Homo sapiens: one gene and its partners. The protein of the gene in region 2 interacts with the protein of the main gene of each other region in a pairwise test. Each region holds a gene or a part of one and is shown on either strand. Other genes may lie near its edges.

What was found. Proteins that work in one complex are often made in the same cells at the same time.
Region 1: the proteins of KRTAP11-1 (region 2) and VGLL3 interact in binary tests that used the Homo sapiens proteins (3 or more experiments, as listed by UniProt).
Region 3: the proteins of KRTAP11-1 (region 2) and SPRY1 interact in binary tests that used the Homo sapiens proteins (3 or more experiments, as listed by UniProt).

Annotation. Positions count from the first base shown.
Region 1 is NC_000003.12:86,973,994-86,981,791, reverse strand, and holds part of VGLL3 (transcription cofactor vestigial-like protein 3), read left to right. Parts: intron 1-2,989; coding exon 2,990-3,266; intron 3,267-7,798. UniProt on the Homo sapiens protein: May act as a specific coactivator for the mammalian TEFs.
Region 2 is NC_000021.9:30,879,211-30,887,527, reverse strand, and holds KRTAP11-1 (keratin-associated protein 11-1), read left to right. Parts: upstream 1-5,947; 5' UTR 5,948-6,003; coding exon 6,004-6,495; 3' UTR 6,496-6,884; downstream 6,885-8,317. UniProt on the Homo sapiens protein: In the hair cortex, hair keratin intermediate filaments are embedded in an interfilamentous matrix, consisting of hair keratin-associated proteins (KRTAP), which are essential for the formation of a rigid and resistant hair shaft through their extensive disulfide bond cross-linking with abundant cysteine residues of hair keratins.
Region 3 is NC_000004.12:123,399,153-123,404,411, forward strand, and holds the end of SPRY1 (protein sprouty homolog 1), read left to right. Parts: intron 1-387; exon of another isoform or gene 388-642; intron 643-2,384; 5' UTR 2,385-2,439; coding exon 2,440-3,399; 3' UTR 3,400-4,603; downstream 4,604-5,259. UniProt on the Homo sapiens protein: Inhibits fibroblast growth factor (FGF)-induced retinal lens fiber differentiation, probably by inhibiting FGF-mediated phosphorylation of ERK1/2. Inhibits TGFB-induced epithelial-to-mesenchymal transition in lens epithelial cells.

The sequences.
Region 1 (7,798 bases), on a different chromosome or scaffold from region 2:
CCTAACTTTATCTGAAAAAAAATTGCAAGTGGCAACGGTAGACATTCTTGTGTCCTGCCTATGGGTAGATAGAAGCTTTTTTCATTTTATTTGTTTGATAGTTTTCTAGCAAATTTATTTAATTAGTAAAAGAATCGAGAGAGATAAAAAGAAAAAAGAAAGTATATAATCATTACAAAAAATTTTATTTAATTAGAGGAATCAGTATAAATATTTTAAAGAACCATATATATTTGCTATATCAAAAAGGAATATTTCAGTATACATATTTATGTAAATATAGATATATTACATATATGAAATAAAAAGAATATAAAGAATACATACAATGAGAGAATTCTTTTTCTAAAATAAACTGATGACAGATATTTTAATGCAGGGGCAGCTTTTGCTTACTATTTCCCATTGCATATTGAAAAATATAATTTTTAGGTTAGTTTATTTCTATCCAACCATTGAAAAATTGGTAGGAAAAGTAACACAATATTATGAAGCATTTAGAAAACTGTGAAATCTTAAATCAATTGAAATTCTATAGTTTAAATACAATAGTTTAATGGATTTTAAAATATCGATTTTAAAATTGATATTTTATGATTGCTACTATTGATAAGAATACTATTTGACGTTTGTATCAGGATTCATGGCCTTCAAATCCTTTACATATATATAACTTCAATTTTATTTCATCTAAGAATTAATTGCTGTCAATTAAGGATAAAATAAAACTTTGACTTTATTTGGATTGTTAATGTAGCCAGGCTCTTCTATTTAAAGAATGAATGTTACAATTAAACAAATAAAGCATTTATATGCAAAGCCCCACTCTCACAAACTGATGCTGAGCTGGACATTAACAGAAAAAAGAAATTAGTTTCACGGATAAGAATGAACACTTGTGGACAATGATGCCACCATGTAGATAGGTTTTAGGGTTTTTTTTTTTCATAGAAAAACAGAGCTGCTTTCTAATGTGCCCGAATATTCAGCAGAGAGTGTGTGCATATGGTTAAAACAATACATGTTTTAGGTAAATACACATGCACCCGAAGAAGCAGCACTGTGATTTGACTAATAAATCATAATATTCATTTAATTTTTTAATGGAATTTAAAACTAGGAATAGTTTTAGAGGTTATTTAGTTCGATTCCCTCATTTTACACATACCATATGTTTCTATGGTGTTTATACTATTGAAGTTAAATATAAACATGTTCAAATCTGTGCAGAGGTAGATTATGAGAAATAAAAGCAATCATCTATTCATCAGCAAGGCACATTCACTTACAAAGTATGAATTATCTATTCATCAACAAATCATAACCATACTGATACGAATTTTAAATAAAAGCAAAACACATATTTATAAATAACCATCCTGAAACGATAACTAGAAGTTCATAGTATTTCTGAATATTTCAGTACTCACCTTATACAAGAACAACATATTCACTGCTAGGGGAAAGGGACCAATTTATTGAATGGTGCATTTATAATTTGAAGCTATAGATATTGAAGCTAGTAATTACATTAGAAATATAGAGTCTGGGGTATGTATTTTGCTAACATTTGAAAAATTACTGGGTATTCTGGAGTGATTTATCTATTTCTACTCACATTCATTTTCCAGCATGCGTTTTTTTCAAAGTAAAAAAAAAAAAAAGGTATGATCAAGGATCAGGTTTTGCAGACATAAAGATGACAGAGAAAGCTCATTTCGTCACTAGAATAATACATTTCATATCTTTAGCATTATCTCCTTATATGTAATTCGCATTGAAGTTGATAATAAATGGAATATGTGCTCAGTGAAAAATGTTTGGAAATACTGAAAAGCAGAAATAAGAAAATGACAATTAACTATAAACGTATTACACAGAAAAACAATACAAAATACATTTTTGTAATTTTTTTACTCTAGATATCCCTCCCTGCCTTTCCCCACCAAATGTATGCACACGCATATCTATATGCTAGATATCCCTCCCTGCCATTCCTCAGAACATATATATGCACACACATGTCTATACCTGTATGTTTTTCTTATGCATTCTGACTCTGCAGCTTACATGATTTGTGACTTTTGGCAAGTAACTTAATTTTTCTGTGCTTTAGCTTTTTAATCTTTACAATATGGATAGTATTAATAGCCATGTTATAGAATTGTAAAGATTAAGTGAGGTGATAAATATAAAGTTTTAGAAACATGTCTGAAATAATGTATATTATTATTAGAATTATATTTTTAAACATTTTAAATTAACAAATCTTTCTCATTTTTAATTGAAAGATTAACCCACTACTAGTATTTTGTAATATTTTCACTAAGCCATAATGAAATCTTTTCCCCTCATGATAATGGTGGTAAACGGAACATCTAAAAAATATGTTCCATGCAAAATGCATCTTCACACAGACTTATTTTGCCATTTTAGTTTGATTTTTGAAGACATGAGTTCAGCACATCTGCCAAATCCTTTTATAAGATGCTACATTCCTGTTTTTATTTTAGTTTATTTTATTTATGAAAAGTTCTTTTCTTCTCCACTCCACCCCCAGACAGTCATTCCTCTCTGTCCTAAACCATAACACTGCTGTACATTGCATTTTTAAAAATAAACCAAAACTGGGAAGAAAAACTTTTTAAAAAAGTAATTCTCCTGTTGGCCTAGCTAGATGAAAAAACAAAAAGCAAAACAAAAACAAAAGCAAAAACAAAATCTTGTATTGAAAATATACTATTTGATAATGGGCTTTTATGTTCGTTTGCCAAATGTAGAATCACAGAGTTTTTGTTGTATTTTTTTTAGTGTGGGAAGGAGGCAACTGGTTTGGGGAGGAAAAAGATGGAGTAAAACAGATGAAGAAGAATCAGTTTGCAAACATATGTTAATATTTAGATTCTTTTTTTAAAAAAGTGAAAACTTAACTAGTGAATGCTTTTCTACAAACTGTCTTTGATACTGTGTTTTGTTTATTCCATCCCAGAAGAAGTTAGCGGTATTCAGCAAGATGCAGGACTCTCTGGAAGTCACCCTTCCCAGCAAACAAGAGGAGGAGGATGAGGAGGAGGAGGAGGAGGAGAAAGACCAGCCTGCCGAGATGGAGTACCTTAACTCTCGCTGTGTCCTTTTCACTTATTTCCAGGGAGACATTGGGTCAGTAGTGGATGAACACTTCTCAAGAGCTTTGGGCCAAGCCATCACCCTCCATCCAGAATCTGCCATTTCAAAAAGCAAGATGGGGCTAACCCCCCTATGGCGAGGTAAGAATTCAAAAGCAGATGTTCTCCAGGGCACTGTCTTTGTTTCGCAACTGCCTGTACCAGGTTCCAGCTGGAGACTTGCCCCTGAGGATGGATATCCACTTGCTTTTTAATATTTAAGGACAGTGAGGAATTTCTTTCAGACAAACAGCTGGATCGGTTTTGTCACATGTGGAATGTAGGGTTGGAAAGGATGCAGTCACACCCCTTAAATTCCTCATGGAAAGTAGTGATACAACCGGCTTGAGTTTATAGTGGCTGCACTGAGCTGCGAAGTACCATTCCTAAAGCCCCAGTGGCCCAATTTGGATCTCTAAATAATAGGCGTGTCTAAATCAGCTTTTAAAAAATTAGCTCTTGCTCATTCCAATAGGTGCTATGTGGTGACATACCAGAGACCTGAGTCTGACCCAGGAATACAGACATTGAAAGCTGTCTGTGTTCTTTGAATAGGCTTCTTTATCCTGATTTGTTATTGTATTAACTCTTTATAGTATACACTCTAGGCATTTTGGCAGCATCCACATGGCTTAAACTAGTGTTTTTACCTTGATAAAGAAAGAGCAGCACATTGGACTCCTTTATTTCTCTCTGTATCGAGCTCACAGAGATGTGTTTGAAACTGATTTCTGACTCATAGAAAATTATTGGTGACATCTAAATCAGGGTAATTACAGGGTTAGATAAAAACATAATACGTCATTCCAATGACAGCTTCAGAGAAATTTGCTACAGTGGTGATTTCTTCCAAATTCACCTGGTTATAGGAATGATCTAGTAAAATGGTTCTCGAGGTGTGATTTTCCTGACCAGGAACATCAGTGCCACATGGGAGCTTGTTAGAAGTGCGAATTCTTGGGCTCCACCCCAGACCTGCAGAATCAGAAGCTCTGGGGTGGGGCAATCTGTGTTTTAACCAGCCCTCCCAGTGACTCCAGTGCAGAGTTTGATAATCATTGATCTAGTCCTGTTAAGGACAGTTTGCAGGACCCCCTTATCTCGAATCTATTGAACTAGAATCTTCATAGGAAGGTGTGGGAATCACACTTTAACAAGGGCTCTGGGTAATTCCTATCATGAGGAAAAGCTGGCTACCTGTGGGCAGGGCCAGGTGAGCAGTGAGCAGTGACTAGTGGTACCTTCTGGGCAGCACAGGAATGGTTCTGCTCTACTGTAGAAGTCCTGGCCACATGGAATTGCTGGGCCTGATCTTTTCTTACCTACTTGACCTTTCTTTTCTTCTCTCCCTCCCTCCCTTCTTACCCTCTCTCCTTCCTTCCCTCCCTGTTTGCCTCTTCTCCTCTCCTCTCCTTCTTTTTTTTCTTTGCTTCTTTACTTTTCTTTTTAGTAAATATAAACAACACTAAACAGTGACTATAAAGGGGAAGGTGGAATACAAATAAAATATCCAAGGCCTTGATGGAAATGAACTGAAAAACATACTAGTTATTTGATTAGTAAATAATATGGGCTTACTATGAGAACTGAGACTTAGTCCTTGGAAGCCTATGATGCTTATGTAATAGACTAATGTCCTATTTAACAGGACGTGATGAATAATTTTAATAATTTGTAGAGGAAGAAAATAGGAAAACATTAGTGAGTTAGATGGCTTTAATAAATAATTTGATATATCAATAATGAATCCTATTAAGATAATCAGTGCCAGGAGAGTAATAAATATAATGTCTACTTCTTTTAGCACATGGGCATATGCAACCTTGCTATCATTTAAACTGAAAAATCAGAATTAATGTCCCAAATTATTTCTTGGTGTGAGAGTGATTGTCTATAGAATCATATTCAAAATAATTTTTAGTGGGATGTTGTGAATGTGCAGAAACCCTACAACACATCAGCATTTTCTCTGTAATTTGCAAAACACATTACACAAGTTCCTTTAGCAGATGTTAAACTGTAGCATAGAAAGGGTTAATAAAGGCAATGTTTTCATAACTACTACTAAAGTTTTCTTGGAACTATCTTAAATTTGATCTTCAAATATGTCTCCTGTTTTATTCATTGACATATTCAGCAAACATTTATTAACCTCCTGCTATGTGTTAGGCAATGTGCTAAGTCCTGAGACAGCCCAAGGCTCTACCCTCATGGAGCTTTTAGGGTAGAAACAGGAAACAAACAATTGTTACAAAATATGTTATTTTACATAAGGTGATAACAAAAGCCCTGTGTGGCACAGTTATGTTTGAGCAGATAGCTGAAGGAAATAAGAATACTCATCATGTGGTTACCTAGGGGAAAGTAATTCTACACAGAAGGGACAGATAGTGCAAAGGCCCTGAAGATGGACTGAGCTTAGAATATTCAATGAGAAGCAAAGATGCTGGTGTGAGGTGAATGAAATGCAAAGTAATAGGTGGAGAACAGATGCTTTAGAACTTTTTTTTTTTGAGATGGAGTTTCGCTCTTGTCACCCAGGCTGGAGTGCAGTGGTGCGATCTCGGCTCACTGCAACCTCCGCCTCCCCAGTTCCAGCGATTCTCCTGCCTCAGCCTCCTGAGTAGCTGGGATTACAGGGACCCTCCACCATGCCCAGCTAATTTTTGTATTTTTTTGGTAGAGACGGGGTTTCACCATGTTGGCCAGGCTGGTCTTGAACTCCTGACCTCAGGTGATCTGCCCGCCTCGGCCTCCCAAAGTGCTCGGAGCCACACTTACAGATGTGAGCCACCGCGCCCCACTGTTTTAGAGCTTTTTACATCAGTTTATCAGCATATACCAGGAGCACACAGCATGCGCTTCAATTTTCATCTCCTATTATCCCACTAAGTCTACAAATACCATATCTTCTTATGGTGCCTCATTTTTTCTGATGCTCACAACAATGTGTTTCTATGTGGAAAATCTGAAATAGATATGCATTGAATGATTAAGTGACTGAATTAAATGAACCAATTTCATACCATGTATCCGGAATTAGAAAACAAGAGTCTTTAATAGAAAATTTCTTGGTAATAAGTTATATGAACTCTTTGGGTACAGTTTTTTTTAATTTATAAAATAAGGGGGTTAAATTAAATAATTGGTAAAAATATTTTCTTCTGTAAAGTTCTGTAATTTCAAAGGTATTATTTGCTTTTCTTAGATCTTTGTCATAATTGTCTTAAGTTGTGAATTAGACAGATTTAGATAAATATATAAAACTTGTGTAGGATTTATAGGAAAGCCACAAACGATAATTAAAAATATAGAAAATGTCTTAAAGAAGAGGTTCAATAAAATGAGACTCACATTTTTATTCTCATAAAATGAGAGAGTTGGTGACAATTTAATATTAATTGGCAAAGCTACACAGGATTGGAAAATACAGTCTTTGGAGTCCATTTGTTTTAGATTCATGTTCCAGCCTTTACCTTCTGGTTGCAATGTGATCTTGGATTACTAAATTGAAATCTCTTACATCAACTTCCTCAACTGTAATATGTGTTTATTGATACCCATCTCATAGAGTTATTGTAAAGATTTTTAAATAATGTATATGAATAATTTAGCATAGAGCTTGACTCAAGGTGCTAAATGAAAGCCAGATGCCTTTTCTCTCTTCCTTAAGTAAGTTTCCACTCATTTGACACATAGAAAACAAACCCTGAGCCTTTATCCAGGAACATTGTTTTCTGGAACTTTGTGTTTTTGGTACAAAACACACAGTCTTAGATAATAGTAGATACTAAAGGCTAATGATAATGTTAGTGGCCATGGCAATGATGCTTAGAAAGGAACTGCTGACCGAGTATTAAAGGGTCTAGTTTACAGCATAAAGTTATTACAGTGCCACAGAAGTGCTACCATGCTACAAACAAATTTAATAACTGAATCGTGTTTGACTAAGAATATATTTACACGGTAAATCTTTAGACAAAGAATAGTGTGTCAGCTAATAATGAAAGAATGGTTATACTTTGAATGTATATCTCCTTCATGAAGCTAGGTAAGTTTTTTTAGGTGTTTTTCAGCTGTAAGGCAAACAATGATAGGAAGTATATGTATTTTACTTGGCACAATGTCTTATCAGTTACCTCTAATCCTGCTATATATTCTAACAGGGTTGAAAGAATTTCATTTCTTTCCATTAAGAAAACCTAACTAGCTGGGCGTGGTGGCTCATGCCTGTAATCTCAGCACTTTGGGAGGCCGCGGCCGGGCAGTTCACCTGAGGTCAGGAGTTCGAGACCAGCCTAGGCAACATTGTGAAACCCCATCTCTACTAAAAACACAAAAAATTAGCCAGGCAAGGTGACAGCCACCTGTAATCTCAGCTACTTAGGAGACTGAGACAGGAGAATCGCTTGAACCCGGGAGGTGGAGGTTGCAGTGAGTCGAGATTATGCCATTGTACTCCAGCCTGTGTGACAGAGTGAGACTCTATCTAAAAAAAAAAAAAAATAACAAACCTAATGAATATGATTGGTCCCTTATCTCCATACAAATATATGTTTCTTGATACCCTTCTCCTAGAGTTATTATAAAGATTTTAAAAATAATCTATATGATTAATTTAGCACAGCGCTAAA
Region 2 (8,317 bases):
ACATGTGACAATCTACCAAGAATCTAGCTGCACTTCAAGACTTTTGTAGTTACTGATTTGGCCATTGCAGAAATGGCTTTAAACACCCAAATGTCACTTGCTGGATGCTCAGCTTGTGTACAAGTTTTTCTTGGGATTGCATGGACAGAGGCATGCATGTACCCTTAGGGGCCTAAGCTGGGAATTAGAAGGCCTGGTTATTATTTCTAATTCTTTCAAATAGCAAATATTTGGAATCTGGGTGTCTCAACCCAAGTTCCCTGAAAAGCAAAGCTTGAGACAGTTTTGGTGTTTTATTCCAGGGATTGCAGTGCAAGGGTAGTGAAATAGAAGAGTAGGGAAAGCAACCACAAGAAAGTGTTATCAAGTCAGCCACCATTGCAAGCAACTTGTGCGTGATCCCATGGGACTTCCTGAAGTGAGTTTCAGTACTGTATTAGTCCGTTTTCAGGCTGCTGATAAATACATACCTGAGATGGAGCAATTTATAAAGAAAAAAATGTTTAATGGACTCACAGTTCCACGTGGCTGTGGAGGCCTCACAATCATGGTGGAAGGCAAAAGCACATCTTACATGGCGGCAGACAAGAGAGAATGAGAACCAAGCAAAAGGGGTTTCCCTTTGTAAAACCATCAGATATTGTGAGACTTATTCACTACCATGAGAACAGTATAGGGGAAGCCGCCTCCATGATTCAATTATCTCCTATTGGGTGTCTCCCACAACACATGGGAATTACAGGAGCTACAATTGAAGATGAGATTTGGGTGGAGACATGACAAAACCATATCAAGTATTATCTACCTGGAGGACAAAAGTGGGGAGTTTTCATCCTTTGGTTTGCATTCTCTGTTGCCTACACTTGACCCCACTTCTGGGTGGTACATATGTGAGTGCAGAGAAAATTAACATGGACTTTCCTTGCCATGGCATCAGAGAAGACCTAGCAGGAAGCAAGGAGCACGTGAGTTGCCTCAAAGTGAAGGAAGCACTTTGGGACTGCACCATCATGAAACTGGCTTAAGTGTGTGCAAAGAGGCTACAGTAAGAAATGAAGTGAGACAGTTTCGAAGTAGTGCACAAGAATGTTCGATGTGCTTGGCAAAGATGCTCCCTGTTTCGGACTTGGCTTCTCATCAATCAGATAAGAGAATTGTATGAGAAGAATTTAAAATGCAGCACTGGAAGTCTAATTACCAACCTGAGATAGTGCTGGCCTAATGTTACACTCCTAATCCCCCAGACAGGCAGATCAGACCAAGAAGAACTATGTTGAAAGGGCATAAGCACAGGTCAATTAAGTCATGTTAAGAGAAGACCTATCCACTTTACCTGTCTCCTACATAGATTCCAGTATCCTTACCCCACAGAGTACCTAGTAGGCCCTGAACAATTCTGGATCAGGGAAGGATGATACATCTTGGGAGACTCGGTGCCTTCTCTCTTAGGCCCTGTACATAAACATTACTCATGTCTGGTTACAAATGGGTCTCCCTCTCTTTATTTGGAAGGCCAGGACTGGAGCCCATGCCAACGACACATGGGCTTTGCCACATGGGAGTTAGTTGTGCTGAAAAACACTTGGGATTCTACTCACCTTTCTTGACAGCACCCTGATTTTGATCTCCATTGAAGACACACATGAAAAACCACATGAATCTGAAAACAGGCATCAACAGAGAGAATGGTTCAATTTAGAATTTTTCAACCTTGACACTGTCCTCTGAGGGTTTATTTTTACACAAGTCATGTAGCTGGTGATTGCTATTTTCGGGTTCAAAAAGCAGCAACTATTTTGCTGGTCTTTGCTTGTTTCTTTCACCTTCTGCTTTCTGCCCTAGAGTTCCTTCCAGCCCAAATTATTCAACCCTTCTTATGATTGATGCTTTTTGAAAAGAGATTGGAAAATGAATTTCAGTTCCATTTTGTGGTGCAAATCACTGAGCCTCCAGGGCTTTATAATGTCTTGGTTAATAAAGATTCTGGAGATTCAACCCAGAGGTCCGTGGGAAGTTGGAAAGAAAGCAGAACAACTCAGCCAAGATGTATTTAATTTTTAAAACAACCATTAAGTTCTACACTTAAGCTTCTGAATTTCCTTTTTATATTTCTTAAGAGACAATGAATAGCTTCAATTTGAGAGGGTGATCATTCTGAAAAAGTGCAGAATGACAGCATTTCATTTCATATATATTAATTTTTCCACAAGTTCACTATTCCTCCATTCGATGAGGCTAAGTGGTTTTCTCTGAACTGGCGTTGGTCAACATTATTATCAAATTTGTGATGAAAAATATCCTTTCTGCCTATCAAACCTCCAGCCTCCCTCACATGCTTAGCTCATTTTACTCTCAAATGCTTGGCCTTGTAAATGATTGCTGTGATTCAGTTTTGAGTGAAAGAATTGCTCATTTCCAGCCTGTGATAATTATTGTATAAGGCTTAGATTGTTCTATACAAATGAGAGCAAATTATCCATCAGTGATGAAGATAATGGGTAGTAGTTCCTCGATCTCTCCTCATCTGCTCCTATTACCCATCCCCTCACTTCACGCTCTGCAGACATGAGAATAATAATCTTCACAAGACTTTTTGCTGAGTTGAAGTTTGAGGTTGTGCCTAACTACATAGTGACAGCAATTGGCCGTGTAATTTTTTCTTACATTCCAAGGAAAGGATGATTTATTAATTTCATTGAACAACATTGTCAAATTAAAATTGTGTAGAGTTTCATCAAGCTTATGTGACTGTCAGTACATGTTTCTTTACTTTTGCAACATACAGTGAATGCAGATAAAGAGTCAAAGTGCTTGCATGTGACAATAAAATGCATGAGAGTATCAAGTAGCTTGCCTACCTCTGTGTGGCATGGTGTATTTTCAGAGAATAGCAGAGAAGTGTATCGATTTTTCACGTTGGCAAGACCTTTATGAGAAATGTTATTCACAAACTCTGAAATCATTTTAATATAAGACTTCAGAAATAATCTGCTTGTAGTCACAATGTAAGCTGAAGTTTCTTTTAATAATTAATCTAAGGGATCTACTCAACATTTTCCCTCTATTTAGCACCTGAAAAATGGCAGACTCTGGAAAATGGATAAGACTGAAAAATCAATTCACTTATCTGCTACGCTCTGAAAATTTGTTGTGTGCACAGCTATTATACATAATTATAATTTCAAACTATAGCTTCAAGCTATTAATGTTTCTCTATTCTTTTTTGCTTTGTTTGTAGTGACCTTGTGTCTTATTCTAAGGATTAAAAATTGTTAAATTGGATACAGAATGAACAAAACATACGAAGTAGGACAGCAGTGCTTGTGACTTACTATTTTATTTATTTCCATTGTTAATCAATTGATGAACCTAGAAGAGAAATGATTATATCCTTTATAATGTCATCAATGAAGTATTGATTGATTGATTAAAAATAACAAATTCTTGTTCACACTTGAAGGAAGGCATCTCATCACATTTAAATATCCTCAGTGTGAGTTGGTAGTTCAGAGACTCTGTTTTAGTTGAATCTCAACTTAGTCAAATATAAACTGCATGACCTTGGCGAGCCACCCAGGGTCCCTGAACTTCAGCTCCAGTATGTGACATGATACCTACTCCACAGAGTTGTTGTAAGAACTCAGTGAGATGAGTTGTACAAACCTTTATTTTTTTAAATTTTATTTATTTTTTTGAGACGGAGTCTCTCTCTGTCACCCAGCCTGGAGTGCAGTGGCTCGATCTTGGCTCACTGCAAGCTCCGCCCCCGGGTTCATGCCATTCTTCTGCCTTAGCCTCCCGAGTAGCTGGGACTACAGGCGCCCACCACCTCGCCTGGCTAATTTTTTGTATTTTTAGTAGAGACGGGGTTTCACCATGTTAGCCAGGATGATCTCGATCTCCTGACCTCGTGATCTGCCTGCCTTTGCCTCCCAAAGTGCTAGGATTACAGGCGTGAGCCACCGTGCCCGGCTGAGTTGTACAAACCTTTAACTCAATGCCTGGAAGAGAGTTGTGTGCTTAAAAGACACTCATTTTCTTTTTTCCTGAAGTGATGGAAGATATTTTCTAGGATCCTTTTATCTGTAATTTCCAGCTTTCAATGGGAGAGACACATCAAGACAAGGTAATAACTTATACAATTGTCTGTCATTCCAGGAATGTGGCAGTAGGCACTGAAACGTTCTCCTTTGTAACTCTACTACTCACTTCAGATTTTGGGAATTGCCACAGTTAAGTACTCTTCCATAGTAGCCTGTGAACCTGTGGCTGGGAGAAGCCTGTAAACTAGTAATCCATTTTACAACATGCAAGCCAGGCCCTAGGGCCAAGGACTCAGGCCTTCAAACACCAACTAAGATACCCTCTGTGGTGGGAAGAGCATAGCCACAACATTGTGGAAAGTAGTCATCTCATTAATTTCACCCCGTTCCTGGGAACACATGGTGAGTCACTGAGGGAGGGTCAGGACATTGAGGTCTGATATCTGGGAATCATGCTATTGCTCACAGCACCCTCTTCTTTGGGTGTGTCGTTAGTTTCCAATTAGGGATTTCTGATGAGTCCTGACATAACGCTGTTTGCTTTGTGGATATTTAAAACATAGCTTACCTGTAGCCCTCAAATACATGGAAATCCATTTTATTCCCTTACGCTCCCTCATGTAAGCTAGTTTAAAAATGAGTCAGATGCTACAGCTGTTTTGGGACAGAAATACCACTGACCACTTGAAGCGATGTTGAAGTTGCTTATTTTGCCAGAGTTGAGGCAGTTTATTCATCTATGTTCAGGTGGACCCAAACGAGCCATCATTCTGGTGTTTAAAATTCATTATATTGTAGTGAGATGAAATAAAATAGAGTGATATCCCTATAGCTTCCCCAAGCATAAAAAGAATAATTAAATATAGCACACTCTTCACACATCTCTTCATTACCAAACATTGATTAAGTGCCTGCTTCCCCCAGCTCTGCCTCCCCCTTATCCCTGATGGAGACAATGACCTTGAAGAGCCTTTAGTTTGTCCATAATTAAAATGCATTCTATCTATATGTGTGAAAATAAATATCTTTTGAACATATTGAACAAATTGGGAGAAAGACACTGTACCCTTTCAAATTAACATTATGATAATTTTAAAAATTAACTAAGCCTTTTCCACTGGCATATTAATGAGACCCAGGAGTCACTATTATCCACTGTTATTAAATTAAACATTTTAGGAATAAAGCTCATCCAATTTACTTAGAAAAGGTCTTGGCTACAAATACAGTTGCACTTAGTTAGCTTCTAATTTGCTTTGTTGGTTGAACATAAAGGGTGGGTCCCACTGCCCTCTAGCCTTCCCACGGGCATCTTGTTTGAGTCAGTTGATTAATTTTGAGAGCCAGCTCAGACTTTGGATACAAGTCTCTGTGCCCTTTGTTCCTGTCAAGTGTTGTCACTGTTGTCTTGAAACATATTCAAGGAGGCACCTTCCCAATGAGGAGCTCCGTTAGGTGTGGTAGAGTGACTGATTAAGTTATGTTTAAAAGATATTAAGTCCAGTGACAAATGAAACAGGGCATGGGCTTGTAATTGGTCCTGGTAGGGAGGGAGAGAGTGTGTGATGGTAGGATGGTGGCATCTTTGGTAGGATGAGTGTCAGGTCAACACTCATCATAAGCAAGATGAATGAGGGACAACGTGTGGGCTGGGATGACCAATAGCTTTGAAGCTGCCAACCAGCCTTCTTAATCAGACTAAGTACAGTACAGAAGACTTGTGATTTAGTTACCAAACTACTAAACTTTCTTTATGAGGGTGAAGGCTTCTTAAGAGACAATTAATGTGTAGATTCACAAGATGTTCTAAGGCAAACTGGTCTGAGCCAAAGAAGCCACGGAGACCAGGGAGAGAGCCCCACCCACCAGCAAGGATATATAAAAGCTCAGGAGTCTGGAGTGACATTCACAACTCAGGAGGTAACTTCAGCAAGCTACCTGCAGCCCTCTGTCTGACATCATGTCCTTCAACTGCTCCACAAGAAATTGCTCTTCCAGGCCCATTGGAGGACGCTGCATTGTTCCAGTGGCCCAAGTTACCACGACTTCCACCACTGATGCTGACTGCCTGGGCGGCATCTGTTTGCCCAGTTCCTTCCAGACTGGCTCTTGGCTCCTGGACCACTGTCAAGAGACCTGCTGTGAGCCCACTGCTTGCCAGCCAACCTGTTACCGGCGAACTTCATGTGTCTCCAACCCTTGCCAGGTGACTTGCTCTCGACAAACTACCTGTATTTCCAACCCCTGCTCAACTACCTACAGCCGGCCGCTCACCTTTGTCTCTAGTGGATGTCAGCCCCTGGGAGGCATCTCCAGTGTCTGCCAACCAGTGGGCGGCATCTCTACTGTCTGCCAACCAGTGGGAGGAGTCTCTACTGTCTGCCAGCCAGCCTGTGGGGTCTCCAGGACGTATCAGCAGTCCTGCGTGTCCAGCTGCCGAAGAACCTGCTAAGTGTGTAGGAGCCAGTGAGCGAATCAAGACTCCACGACCTGCCAGCTGTTTCCAGGATCTTCCAGCATGCTGCTTGTCCCTGAATAGCTCTTCATAGCTGACCCTTCTTGTGACCGCCTGACTGCTGGCTACTATCCATGCACACGCTGTCTTTAGCACTCTAAAATTTTTCTGGCCAGCCCTAAGCTTGTTTTAAGGGTTGCTCACTGGTGCTGTGTATGCCTCTGGATGTGTCCAGAAGCTTTACCATCCACACCCCAGTCTCTGATGCTTTTGACATGTTTTCACCTTGCTGCTGTATCTCCTGGCCTCTGCTTTTGTGTCTCACAAAAACAGAGCTTGTCTCACCATGTATTTCTCAATAAACCTGCATTAGTTGGCATTGCAAATGTATGTCTCAGCAGAATTCTTTTTTAAACATTTCAACTTTTAATTTAGTTTTTGCGGGGTACATGTGCAGGTTTGCTACAGGGGTATACTGTGTGATGCTGAGGTTTGGGGTATGATTGAACCCATCTGTCAGGTATTGAACATAGTACCCAATAGGTAGTTTTCCAACCCTTTTCCTCTTCCTCACTCCCCGCTCTTCCAGTTGCCAGTGTCTATTGTTTTTATCTTTATGTCCACGTGTACCTAATGTTTAGCTCCTACTTATTAGTGAGAACAGGTGGTATTTAGTTTTCTCAACAGAGCTCCTTGTTTGCAAGAGTCTTTGCTGATCAGGGTCTGATTTTTTTTTTCCTGAGCCTAGAATATGGGCTTAATCATTATGCCCTGTGACCAAACCAAGGATTATCTTATATTTTACTTGTTCAGAGAGAGTCTTCAGCTGTGCGGTGAAGTAAGGGCTATGATTTTTCTTTTCTTTTCTTTCTTTCTTTTTCTTTTTCTTTTTTTTCTTTTTTTTGAGATGGAGTCTCACTCTGTCGCCCAGGCTGGAGTGCAGTGGCACGATCTTGGCTCACTGTAAACTCTGCCTACTGGGTTCAAGTGATTCTCCTGCCTCAGCCTCCAGAGTAGCTGGGATTACAGACGTTCACCACTACGCCCGGCTAATTTTTGTAGTTTTAGTAGAGACAGGTTTCACCACGTTGGCCAGGCTGGTTTTGAACTCCTGAGCTCAGGTGATCTGCCGCCTCGGCCTCCTAAAGTGCTGGGATTACAGGCCAGGGCTATGAGATTTCTAGGAGTAACTTGTCTTCTACGTCTCCTTCCATTTCTAGGGGCACATGGAATAACTTACATTTAGGAAAAAGAAAAGTTACCCAGAAAACCAGGTATTTCAGAAAGATGTGCAGGGAAGGGAGCAGTGGGATCACTGAGAAGTGCTGAGTCTTATTTAGTTAGAGGATCACAGTAGAAACCTTTGGAAAAGATTCCTCCATGATCAATCGGGATGGAAGGAGAAGGAGAAAGAAAGAGAAGGCACTTTTCAGGCCCTGAAATTAATCACATCAAAAGAGTGGCTCTAGCTTTATACCCACCTCACTCATGGTAGTGGATTAGTAGAATCTGCCAACGAGGGATACCAATTGACTGTTCGAGTCAGAGCCCTGAGAAAATTAAAGCTCTGTGTTTTAGTAAATCTGGGCAGGAGAGACTTAAAAAGAAGCTTAAAAACCTGTTGGCTTATATTAATACTTAGTCATACTTCTTGCTCGTTCTTCCCTGGAACTCGTGTACTAAATAAATCAAACCATCTGGATAGGTGGAGGTTGACATGCTAAGTCCTTTTGCCATTTTTTTTTTTTTTAAGGAAGTGAAGACTGGCTACCAACTGGTTTGCTTTTGCCCTTCTCATTTGTTCTGTCCAGAAAAACAT
Region 3 (5,259 bases), on a different chromosome or scaffold from region 2:
GATCACCTGAGGTCAGGAGTTCGAGACCAGCCCGACCAACTGATGAAACCCCGTCTTTACTAAAAATGCAAAAATTAGCCGGCCGTGGTGACGCGCGACTGTAGTCACAGCTACTCGAGAGACTGAGGCGGGAGACCCGCTTGAACCCGGGAGGCGGAGGTTGCAGTGAGCCAAGGTCGCGCCACTGCACTCCAGCCTGGGAGACAAAGTGAGACTCCGGCTCAAAAAAAAAAAGTGGGGAAGTCCGCCCTCCTGAGCTCATGGTAACCTCAGCCTCCTCCCCTCCTCCTACCACAGAGAGAGGGAGAAAGAACTTGTTTTCATTCATAACTTTTTCCTTTTCCTTCTTCCGTCAACTATTTATTCAGTGCGGATTGCAGAGGGCGCAGCTCCACCGTGGTAACTTGCAATGTGGCCGCCCCTGCGCTGGCTTCTTTCTCCTCGGCCCTCGGTGAACCCAGCTTTTCCTTTAAAGCATAGACAAATCCTTGCTTAGGGTCAGCCAGACCGTGGGCTTGCTTTGGGCTCCCGCGTGGACGCTGAAGGCTCTTCATGATTTCTCAGAAACCTTGGTGGGCCACCCAAAAAGTGTGTTGGAAATCCACGGTGATCCTTAATATGGTGATGGGATTGTCCGAAAAGGTATTCTACTTCCATTCGCGTTTTCTTGGGGAAGGCAGTGTGCCGAGCGCGTGTGAGCGTGTTTGGGGCTTGTCCAAGACTGTCACTGCTTGAAAATGGGCTTTTCTTCGGATCGGAGGTGGCGAATTTTCTTTGCTTTTAATTTTTTTGTCTGGCAACTTTATTTCCCAGCCAGTATGAAGTTTGTTACAACTATCATTGGAAATGCAAATTGAAGTTGTGCCTGGTGTTATGGGTTACACTATTCAAATCCTCTGCGGTTTTGTGAATCTGGCTTAGTACTTTTAGCTACCTTTTGCTTTGAAAGCACTGAGTTAAGAAGTTCTTGAAGAAGAGGAATAATTGTGCAGGAGTCAGGATTAGATGTTGAGGACTCCGAGACTAAATCCCCGCAGGTTATGAATGTGTTACTCCTCATGCGCAAAGAAGGTAGAATAAAGTAGAAACTCGAGAGAGCTGAGTTGTGAAAACGAGGGGGAGCTCCAAGAAGTTAACATGTAAGACATAGTTTAGAGACATTAGTTTAGGAAATATAGGAAATGGACTTCTTTCTGCGTTGTTCCTTAAACCATGTTTTTTGCCTCAGGTTGGTAGTGGAGAATGGACATTTCTTTTTCTTTTCATTCTTGAATTGGGTCGACTCTGTAGACTTTAGAAGGAATTTGTGTGAAAAATACTCTAGTTCACCACTGAAAGCAGAAACTTTCATCTTTGGCAGTTTGTGAAGAACACATAAATTAGAAATAACTTACTATTAGTATGGAAACACAACTGCTTATTTTTATCTGGATATTAGTGTGCTGATTTTGTTACAAGAAGAACGTTGAATCAGAATTGGCAGTGCGTTTGAAAATCAAGGTCTGTCATGTAAATACAGATTTTTAAATCAGAGGAAATACAGATAATTAAAACTGCCAGGATTTCCCTACACTGCGTTAAAGGCCTCACACTTATTTGTGCATAAAACTTACTTTGTTTTGTGAGTGAGCCCTTCAGCTTAAAAAAAATCCTCTCAGGATTTCAAATATGAGTACTGTTATATATCATTCACTGGACTATACATTGAGTCTTGTGTGTGTGTGTGTTTGTAGCTCCAAAACACCAAGAATCGTTGTGTACCTGATACATTTATTTTTGCATCTCATAGATGAATAATAAGGTAGTTTTAAAATTCTGATTTATATAGAAAATTACCTATTATTTTGCGATTTCATTTTAAGAGTCTCAATTTTTTAATGCCTTAATTTTTTTCATCATTAATCTAATGCATATAACAGCACACAACAAAAAGGCTGTAGCACCAAAGCCATTCTCAATTTCTTAAAAGGTAGACATTTTCCTTTATGGAAGCCACCTATGAACTGATAACTGAGCTTTCTTTAGATGAGAGTTATTCTCCTGCTTATACTCAGTATTCCCTGCGAAGGCATGCTCCATTTTAATTATTAGATTCACAAACAGGAAGGCATTACTTTCTCCTGATTCTGCTTCTTAAAAGTTGGAAAAACTTATAATGTTCATGGCATGGGGTCTCTTGTTTATAGTCTTCCTCTATGATGTGGTCCCCAGCCTCTCCTAGAATTGGACTCTGGCCAGGACCCCAGCATCATTGTAATCCACTGATGAAGGAGGTCATTACTAGGCGGTTTAGGCAATTTGTGATTTGACAGGATTCCCCCCCCCCAAAAAAAATGCTTCCTGTCATTTATTTTCTGTTTTTTTCATCTTTGATTTCGTTTTAGGATTTCAGATGCATGCCAGGTTTCCACTGATTGCCAGAACTCGAGATCACTACACATGGATCCCCAAAATCAACATGGCAGTGGCAGTTCGTTAGTTGTGATCCAGCAGCCTTCTTTGGATAGCCGTCAGAGATTAGACTATGAGAGAGAGATTCAGCCTACTGCTATTTTGTCCTTAGACCAGATCAAGGCCATAAGAGGCAGCAATGAATACACAGAAGGGCCTTCGGTGGTGAAAAGACCTGCTCCTCGGACAGCACCAAGACAAGAAAAGCATGAAAGGACTCATGAAATCATACCAATTAATGTGAATAATAACTACGAGCACAGACACACAAGCCACCTGGGACATGCAGTACTCCCAAGTAATGCCAGGGGCCCCATTTTGAGCAGATCAACCAGCACTGGAAGTGCAGCCAGCTCTGGGAGCAACAGCAGTGCCTCTTCTGAACAGGGACTGTTAGGAAGGTCACCACCAACCAGACCAGTCCCTGGTCATAGGTCTGAAAGGGCAATCCGGACCCAGCCCAAGCAACTGATTGTGGATGACTTGAAGGGTTCCTTGAAAGAGGACCTGACACAGCACAAGTTCATTTGTGAACAGTGTGGGAAGTGCAAGTGTGGAGAATGCACTGCTCCCAGGACCCTACCATCCTGTTTGGCCTGTAACCGGCAGTGCCTTTGCTCTGCTGAGAGCATGGTGGAATATGGAACCTGCATGTGCTTAGTCAAGGGCATCTTCTACCACTGCTCCAATGACGACGAAGGGGATTCCTATTCAGATAATCCTTGCTCCTGTTCACAATCACACTGCTGCTCTAGATACCTGTGTATGGGAGCCATGTCTTTATTTTTACCTTGCTTACTCTGTTATCCTCCTGCTAAAGGATGCCTGAAGCTGTGCAGGAGGTGTTATGACTGGATCCATCGCCCAGGGTGCAGATGTAAGAACTCCAACACTGTCTATTGTAAGCTGGAGAGCTGCCCCTCCCGGGGTCAGGGTAAACCATCATGATTTTTGGAGGTGGGTTGTACCTCCTGAACTTTTAGCTTTCAAGTTGTGGCTGTTTTTTGTTTTTGTTTTTGTTTTTGTTTTCTTTAGAATTTTTCCCTGTTTCCCACCTTCTCTTCCCCTGTTGCCAAGGTCTAACTCATGGATTTTTCTCTTTCCTCATGGATGATCTTCAGCAAGAGTGGACTGGGAAGCTGCACCTGGCTCCCACTTTCAACAAGAGCCTCTGCCATCCACTTGAGGGTATTGAGAGCCAGTGGGCTTTTGTGTAGCCTTTTTGTTCTGCAAGCAACTTTCTAAAGTTGTGTACATGAACATACACCCACATCCAGACTACAGTGATTTAGAGTTGTTTTGATTGGGTACCGTGGGAGCAGGGAAATTGGTTTTTTAAAAAGCAACTGTTTAATTGCTTAAATAAGCTATGTATTAAATCTGTCTCCAGTTAGGGCTATCTTCCTAGCATAGGCCCCTTAAGTAGCATGGGGGATATATTTTTTGCTATAACGTAAAAATTTTCCTTTAACCACTGCCCTCTCCTTCTTTCTCCTTCAAGGTTCTTTCCCCCTCAGTTTTGTTGTTGTCTTACTCTGGAGATGCCAAGTGTATTTTTTCTTTCTATGTAATTTTAGATTCGCCTTACAATGTAAATCTTCACATTGGAGATAATATTGGTTGGACCTTGCCCATCTTCACTCTAGCCTTCGTATTTGTGAAGGACTCAGCCACCTTCCTTCTTCACCCCATGCTTCTCACCAAATTTTTGTTGTCATTGAGGGCACTTGGATAACTCAAGTTGATATTTATAGCTGATCAATCTATATGTGTCACAGAACTATGCTGCCTAAAGTGATCTTGGCTCCTTAATGGTCCTTTTGGCCCCTTGGATAGTTAACAGCTGAGTAATTCTAATCTCTTCTGTGTTTTCCTTGCCTTAACCACAAATTGTGGTGCTTTTTGTATATTTTATGTATAAATCACAAAGTTGAATTCTGACTATTTTTAAGACAAAAGTCTGTTAAACTTTTTTATTGTAAAGAATATTTATTATGCGAATCTCTATTATTTTATGGTATTTATTGCAAAAGACTGTTGAAATGTACTCATGTTTGAATATAACAAAATATCAATACTTAACGGAAAATAAGGTGACACGAAGAAAGTACATATGTTAACTATAATGCAGAAAATATATTAATTAATGAAACTGTCTCTCGATTTCTTCATTTATTAGCCTGTACTATTATGATGATTTTTGCTTATTTGCTTTGACTTTTTCTTCTTACACACCCATTTTACTTCTTTCCCTATAGATGTTGAATCTAGACATAGGTGAGCCCAAATTATGAACTGGATAATTAGGTTGGTGCAAAAGTAATTGCAGTTTTGGGTCATTTTTAATGGCAAAAACACAGTTACTTTTGCACCAACCTAGTATTTCCTGGAAAGTGCATTAATCAAAATTTTGTAATCCAAATTATCTTTTAACAAATGCTCAAGTGAGTTATTTTGTACAGTAAAAATTTTTTGTAATACTCTCTCCCTACTTTGACTATTTTGTAAGCATGAGGTTTTGTGTATATTATAGTTTCTTGAAATGGGGCATATCTACAGTAGAAGCTTTTTTAAATGTTTATCCTAACTTTTAAGTTAATAAAAAGTTAGATTTATCAGCTAGACTTAATGAACTTAGTTCTGTAGATATGCTAGGAGTCGCTGGTACTGTCACTTTAATAAAGCATTCTAGAAGTTACCAAGGGAATAATTCACAGTATCAGAGACATTTCAAAAACATTCCTGTCCCTGTCTTTTCACTTGTTTCGTAAGTCTAATGTGGCCTGACCAAATTACACCTCATCAAGT